2 linked regions of the Homo sapiens genome follow. The protein of the gene in region 1 purifies or fractionates together with the protein of each later gene. This does not show direct contact. Each region holds a gene or a part of one and is shown in the gene's direction. Other genes may lie near its edges.

Evidence for each region.
Region 2: the proteins of EAF1 (region 1) and PLCD3 purify together in Homo sapiens (affinity purification with mass spectrometry; 4 studies listed by BioGRID and IntAct, with this or other methods). This does not show direct contact.

Annotation. Positions count from the first base shown.
Region 1 is NC_000003.12:15,437,481-15,441,226, forward strand, and holds part of EAF1 (ELL-associated factor 1), read left to right. Parts: intron 1-1,628; coding exon 1,629-1,675; 3' UTR 1,676-3,746. UniProt on the Homo sapiens protein: Acts as a transcriptional transactivator of ELL and ELL2 elongation activities.
Region 2 is NC_000017.11:45,130,652-45,134,397, reverse strand, and holds the start of PLCD3 (1-phosphatidylinositol 4,5-bisphosphate phosphodiesterase delta-3), read left to right. Parts: upstream 1-1,882; 5' UTR 1,883-1,987; coding exon 1,988-2,150; intron 2,151-2,681; exon of another isoform or gene 2,682-2,801; intron 2,802-3,746. UniProt on the Homo sapiens protein: Hydrolyzes the phosphatidylinositol 4,5-bisphosphate (PIP2) to generate 2 second messenger molecules diacylglycerol (DAG) and inositol 1,4,5-trisphosphate (IP3).

The DNA of each region.
Region 1 (3,746 bases):
TCTCACTGTTTTGCCCAGGCTGGTCTTGAACTCCTCCTGGGTACAAGTAATTTCCCCAACTGCCGAAGTGCTGTGATTAAAAGCATGAACCACCATGCCTGGCCTCGGTGTGTTTTAATGCAGTTGATACTAAAGTAAAACAGGAAAACAAGAACAAAAATTTATTTGTTTTGAAGGTGAACAGAGGGCTAATTTTCTATGCTTTTCTCTTTTTGGAACCCTGATGAATGTTCTCTCTTGGTACACCTTCCTTTAAGGAAGTTGGAAGGTCTAGAGGTAACAGTGGGGAAGTTAACCTAGTTAATCCAACTATTGTGGACCAGGCAGAGATAATCTCAACCTCAGCACTATGGGCAGTTTGGGCAAGATAAGTCTTCTTTGTGGGAGGTTGTCCTGCACATTGTAGGATGTTTAAGAGCATCCCTGACGTCTACCCACTAGATGCCAGTACCAGTCTCTTCCCACCTCCCCAGCCCCATGACAACCAAAAATATCTCAAGACATTGCCATTATATGCCCCATCTTTAACATAGAGACTGAAGTATATGAAGAAAATCTGGCATTCTAGGTAGTTAGAAAAGGGGTGACCTCAGGATCAGACCCCCCTGAAAGGGTTTCATGGAACCCCGAGTCCTCAGAATAGACTTTGAGGAGAACTGGCCTAGAGATTAGCAATTTGGAAATAAAGAAAATCACTTTTGCTACAAGTGGTATCAACTGGGGTTCTGTTATATGTATTCCTATTGTATTAGATTGAAATGTTAAGTAATTATATTCTTCTAAATTCTGCCTAGTAAACAGGAATCTGGGGTTTTGTAAAGCACGTTAGTTCAGATTTGAAATTTAAGATAACGTGACTATCCTGGACAGAGGTGTGCCAGAGCAGATACTGCATTAGCATATTACTGGTGTTAACAGTATTCACCTTTCTTAATGGGAAGCCTACCGGATATTTTCTTAAGTTGCCTTTATAAAGCAACTTAATGTGATCAGTTCTTCCGAATGGTGATCAGTTATTTTAAATATTTTCTTTTTTTTTTTTTTTCTTTTTTCTTTTTTTCCTTGAGACAGTCTCACTCTATCGCCCAGGCTGGAGTGCAGTGGTGCAATCTTGGCTTACTGCAACCTCCACCTCTTGGGTTCAAGCGATTCTCCTGCTTCAGCCTCCCAAGTACCTGGGATTACAAGCATGTCCCACTACACGTGGCTGATTTTTATATTTTTAGTAGAGATGGGGTTTCGCCACGTTGGCCAGGCTGGTCTCCAACTGCTGGCCTCAAATGATCTCCCTGCCTTGGCCTCCCAAAGTGTTGGGATTACAGGCGTGAGCCACTGCGCCCAGACATATTTTAAATATTTTCTTGCTATTTATTAAACCATTTAAAAGTTATCCAGCTTACTTCTCCTTTGCTCTACCCTAATATGCAGTATTGTTGTGCTTTGTAGATAACCAAAAGCACCATTTTGTTTCAGTGAGCCAATTTGATTTTCTTCCCTAAGTTGAATTAACAAGGTTTTACTGTAGTGTGATAGCCAAGGCAATTAACAAAAAATTATGAGGAAGTCATTTTTAAATTCTGTACTTTTGTTTGATTCTATGATTTTACTTTATTTTTTTTTTTAAATAGGAAATGACTTGCAGTTGAGTGAGTCTGGCAGTGACAGTGATGACTAGTGCTGGATCTTTCGAAACCTACTTTTTGGTGCACAAACATGCCGCAAGACTGAGCTACTTTGGCGTGGAGTCCATTGCAAGAGGAAAATGTTATGGATCAGTGACTGTAGTAGGAGTTTGAGGCTCTGGAACTCTCACATATTCAAGTCTTTAACTTAGTGGTGATGGGTGATTTTCTCGTGTCATTTTTGAACAATCTCATCTTTCAAAGTTTAAGTAGACCTGTAGAAGAGCTAACAGAATTATATTTCTATTTAGTTAAAATTGTTAATGAAAAACAGATAAATGTGCCCTGGTCTAAGTTACTCAAAGGCCATATCTTCACCAGGCCAGAGATTCAGTTTTAAACCTCAGCAGCCATCAGTTTGGCCAAGTGGTTGGTACCAGTGGAATGAAGTCTTTGATGGGTAGGAGAGAGAGGGAAAACCTCAAACTACATCATAGAAGTATGTTAAAACCACTTTAAATTGTTGACACAAAGTGGTAAGGAAGTTTTGTCTGACTCAGCCTGACAAGCCTGGATAGAAATGGACCTCAGAATACAGAATGGAGTCCTTGAGTGTCAGTTGGTGAGGACCATGGAGTCCTGCCAGCTCAACCTGTCATTTACAGACTAAGAAAGGGAAGTACACACCTGGCTTGTGGCCAGTCTCCTGCCCCCTCTCTGGGCTTTCCTCACTGTTCTCTCCCTTGAATCTCATTTGTAGGAATCAAGAGATTCCTATACATGGGACTTTTAGATGTACATTGGCACTTGGATTAGATTCCAAAAGACAAAAGTGTTGGGTGCTTCTAGCTTGAATTCAGTCCCTAAATACATGAGGCTGGGTGAGCAGATGAAACCGGTAGCCACTGTGCTGATGCATGTGACTCCATTCAGTTGGGGATTTTGGTTCCATGTGGATCCATACTAAGTATTCTTCAGTCAGTGGATTTTAGCAAGGGGAGGTAGGAGTGGAAGAGAGGTGTGAAGAAACCTCTCCGAACAAATGAACCAGCAGTAAGTTTCTAAAAATCAGAATCTAGATAGAAGTTCTGCAATATGAAATGAGCACATTCTTTGATAAGGCGTATCTATTCATGCTTTTGTACCACTGTTTTGTACCTGACTCCCTGACCGATTTGTATTTTTTATATACAACTAGAAGGAAGTCACAAGATTGCCTTCTACAGTGTGCCATTTCCAAATGGATCTGTTGTTGGAGGAAACTGGTTGCTAGTCAATGTTCTATATTTAATGAATGTGTGATAAATCATCCTGTAATCAGTATGGAGTAACCTGTTTTTGTAGTTTGGATGAATATGTCCTGAGAAATTTCCATCCACTTTGGTTCAGCGGACATCAAGGTAGTAATAATAATTTTTCCTCCACAGGTCCCTCCACTCATATGGCCTCTCCCTCCCCAGCTAGTGGAGGGGAAGCAGTCTGGACTTAGAAAGGAAATAGGTGGTCTGTCATAGGGGCTTTCATTAGAGTTAAACTTCATAGAGTCAACTGTTTCATCATCATAGTGAGCCCAGAGAGCCACTGCCCAGCAGCATGCTCACACCACCTACCCTAGTGTAGGTAATAGGTCTACGCTAGGACCCCGTGCTGGGCTCTCAGCCCATCATGAGATTTTGGTGGATTTAATGGCAGGTAGGAACTTATTTATAGTGGATTGATAATTGCTTTATAATTCCTTGGTAATGACAGCTCAGGGAAGGTTTCACAAGGTCATGATCAGGAGACTTGAATTGTTACTGGATGTAGGAATTGTTTCACTGCTCTTAACTTGCTCAAACTGGGGCAGGTTCCAGGAACTTGAACTAAAAATATCTATTTAAGCCTCTCTCTCTTTCTCTCCTCCCCAACTTTTTTCTGAAAGCCTTGATTTCTGTAGACAGAACTATGGTTTTTGGCATGTTGGGTCAAGACGTGTTTCTATAGGAAATGCTTGCACGTGGCACTGGCTTGGTGAGTCAAGCTTCCTGAGCTTCAGACCGTTTGTCCTGTCATCTGTCCTGCCCAACACTGTATGGTTTTTCTCTAGCACGGCTTCAATTTTGTTCTCTGCACAAAGCCTTTGGT
Region 2 (3,746 bases), on another chromosome or scaffold:
TCAAGTGATCATCCCACCTCTGCCTCCCAAAGTGCTGGGATTACAGGCGTGAGCCACCGCATCCGGCCAATTTATTGTATATTTCAAAATAACTGGGCGGGAAGTGGTGGCTCAGGCCTGTAGTCCCAACACTTTGGGAGGCCAAGGCAAGAGAATTGCTTTGAGGCTGCAGTGAGCTATGATCATGCCACTGCACTCCACCCTGGGCAACCAAGTAGTGAGACCTTGTCTCTAATAAACAAATAAAATACAAATACAAATAACTAAAAGCGGAATTGGAATGTTCCTAATACAAAGGAATGATAAATGCTTGAGGTGATGGTTACTTCAATTACCTTGATTTGATCATTACACATTTTATACCTGTATCAAAACATTACATGCCTCTCCATAATTCTCTGCAACTATTAAGTGTCCATAACAATTAAAAGAAATGTAGACTTAGCCTATCCAACAACAAGAATAACAAAAGGGTAAACCAGGAGAATAAGGAAGGTTGTTTCTGGAGGAAGGAACGGCAGGATCAAAAGCACAAAGGCGAATACGATAATCAAGAAGAAAATTCAGGGCCGGGCGCGGTGGCTCACGCCTGTAATCCCAGCACTTTGGGAGGCCGAGGCGGGCGGATCACGAGGTCAGGAGATCGAGACCATCCCGGCTAAAACGGTGAAACCCCGTCTCTACTAAAAATACAAAAAATTAGCCGGGCGTAGTGGCGGGCGCCTGTAGTCCCAGCTACTTGGGAGGCTGAGGCAGGAGAATGGCGTGAACCCGGGAGGCGGAGCTTGCAGTGAGCCGAGATCCCGCCACTGCACTCCAGCCTGGGCGACGGAGCGAGACTCCGTCTCAAAAAAAAAAAAAAAAAAAAAAAAAAAAAGAAAATTCAGGACCCCAGAGTGGCGTAGGGACCCAAGCCAGTGTGCAGAATCTCTGGGCCTGGGAGATCTGAGGATGGGGTAGAGCAGGGCAAGTAGGTGGCAAATCAGGCCCTGAGCACTAGCCTCTCTGTAGGATGCCACGCCGCTGGCCGCCGCAAAGTGGCGGTGTGCGCCCATGTCTCTGCCGGACCCAGGCCACCGGCCGCAGAAACGCTGCCACCTGGACGTCCCCCACTTCGCGCACGCACTCTGGTGCTTGCATATAAATAGTAAGTGCACACCCGACTCGGCCACCAGAACCTGCACACGGATGCCCACCCACGGGTTGACGTCGCGGACAACTACACCGCGGGTGCCGGGCTGGGGTGCCGGCCTGTCCAAGCCTCGAACCCAGAACCAGTTGCTGGGGACTCCAGGCTCGGCTCCGCCTCACGCTCCCCAGGTCCGTCAGCTCCGAGACTGTGGCTCTCCGAGGGGGCAGCACCTGGCCTGGCACAGGGAGGTTAATCCTATGACGTCACTGCCAACCTCCCCACCCCCATGCCCATCCCTTCGGGTTCGCGCTGCCCCGAGCGGCTCAGCTCCCGGGGTTCTGCCTTCGCTCCCGGCCCTGCGTCCTGTCCCGGCTCTGGTTCCCTGCTGAGGCCTGCGGCGCGACGGGGACGCGGAAGGGAAGGAGGAGGGGGTCCTGCGTCAGCCTCGAGTCAGGGCCCCCGGGAAGGAGAGGGTGTCTGTGCCAGAGGATGGCCCTCGTCCCCGGTGCCGGCTCCCACCCCCAGCCCCGCAGCATGGGGGCTCTAGTCACCCTTGCGGCCAAGATCAGAGGCTCGCCCGGACTAAGGGGAGACGGACTCACGAGCAGGGGCGAGCGCTGAGGCTCCGGGCTTCCAGGCCACCGCCTGGCCCCGCCCTCGCACCGCCCCGGCCCCGCCCCCTTCCCTTCCCGCCCCGCCCCGCCCCACCTCCTGCTGCCTCCTCCGACTCCCTCCCGCGCCGCTAAGTTTCTTCGCTCGCCGCCTCGCTCAGAGCCGGGGCCGGGCCAGAGCGGCGCCCCGCTGCCCTGTCCCCGCGTGCAGACCCCGGGCCCGGCCCCGGCCCCCCGCCAAGCCATGCTGTGCGGCCGCTGGAGGCGTTGCCGCCGCCCGCCCGAGGAGCCCCCGGTGGCCGCCCAGGTCGCAGCCCAAGTCGCGGCGCCGGTCGCTCTCCCGTCCCCGCCGACTCCCTCCGATGGCGGCACCAAGAGGCCCGGGCTGCGGGCGCTGAAGAAGATGGGTCAGTGACGGGCAAGGGGCGGTGGGGTGGGCGCGGACCGTTCCCAGAGGCCCAGTCTGGGGCGCTCCAGGGAGCAGTTCGTGGATTCCCCAGGCTGCACGGGGCTGGGAGGCTATGGCTAGGGGCGGAGGGCCAGCTCCCTCCAGCTGGGGGTCGCACCTGGGGTCATCCGAGGGTCCCGGGGCGAGCCGGGCGCCCAGGGTGTTCTTTGCTTCCCACCAGGGGGCGCTCGCGGGGCGTCTGAAGCGCGAATTCGGGCACGGGGCGCTGGTGGGGTCTCCAAGGAGAATGGAGCGGGAGAGGGAGGCTTGGGGTGTCCCTCGTCCGGCTCCCCAGCAGTATCTAGGTTCTGCCAGGGTGTCTCGGGGTCTTGGCAGCCCTTAGGAAGGATGCGAGTTTGCGGTCGGCCTCCGCAGAAGAGGCTGGCCTCCACAGCAGCCCTCCAAGCCGCGGCCCCACAGAGGCGGCCACAGCCACACTGCTCTGGCAGGACTGGTCTAACAGCCTACGTCCGACAGCCAAGGCTCTCACCTCAGATTTGGGGAAGTCAGTCGTGGAGAAGGAATGTAACTGTGGCTCATTGGAACATCACAGAGGCAGCTGGCACTGGGTGGGTTACACAGGTGGTGTCTTGCAATCTTCCTCGACTTCCTAGGTGGGAGGTGAATCCTCATTTCACAAGTGAGGAAACTGACTCAGAGACGGCAAGGAATTTGCCTATGACCACACAGCCAACAAAGGGCAAAGTGTGACTGGCACCCCGGTGGTGCCCCACCACATGGGCCCTGGTACCCTCTCAGAGTCTGGGAAAAGTGGGACCCGCAGGGCAGTGGAGGGCTTGAATGAGAGGGTGTGTGCGAGAATGTTGTCTGACGTGGAAAGGACCGCGCCACTGAAGTGCTGCGTTGGACCTGCCATTGGTAGAATAGTCAGTGATGGAGAGGCTAGGTGTGGAACTCCGGAACAGAAGGACAAGGCTGCCAGGGACCCCGTGTAGAACTTGGGGCAGAATTCAGGGGTCCTGATTGCCAGTTTTGCCTTCTTGTTACCTCGACTCATTCCACCTGAGCGCTGACTATGTCTGGGCGCTGTGCCTGGCACTCTGGTTACTGAGACATAGGACACCATCTCTACCCTGCCATCCATTCAACTGTGCATGCATTGGACAAGCACTTATGCGGTGCCCATGGTATGGTACTATGGTACAAGCACTTGTGGAGTGCCTATGGTATGCTCCACCCTGGGGCTCTTGCATTAGAGAGCTGAGGTTCCAGCAGGGAGATCAGACAGTGAAACAAAGGAACAGGACCTTGGGGGTGGGGGAACAGGGGGCAGCACATGAGGGGCTGGGGAGCCAGCAGGCCCTGGCTGGCCCCAGCTGAGGAAGACGGGAGTGGCAAAGGGGAGAGGCTGGGGGTGGGAGGAGCTCCTCCAGGCCCTCCCTGGAGAGTCATGGACTTTATCTGGAGGGCATCAGGAGCCCCAGAAAGGGCTTGGGCAGGAGTGAGTGTGGAGAGTGGGGGGCAGGTTGGATGAAGGCAGGGGCGAAACAGGGAGACCCAAGGAGGGAGGCTGAGGAGTTAGTTGGGCAAGGGG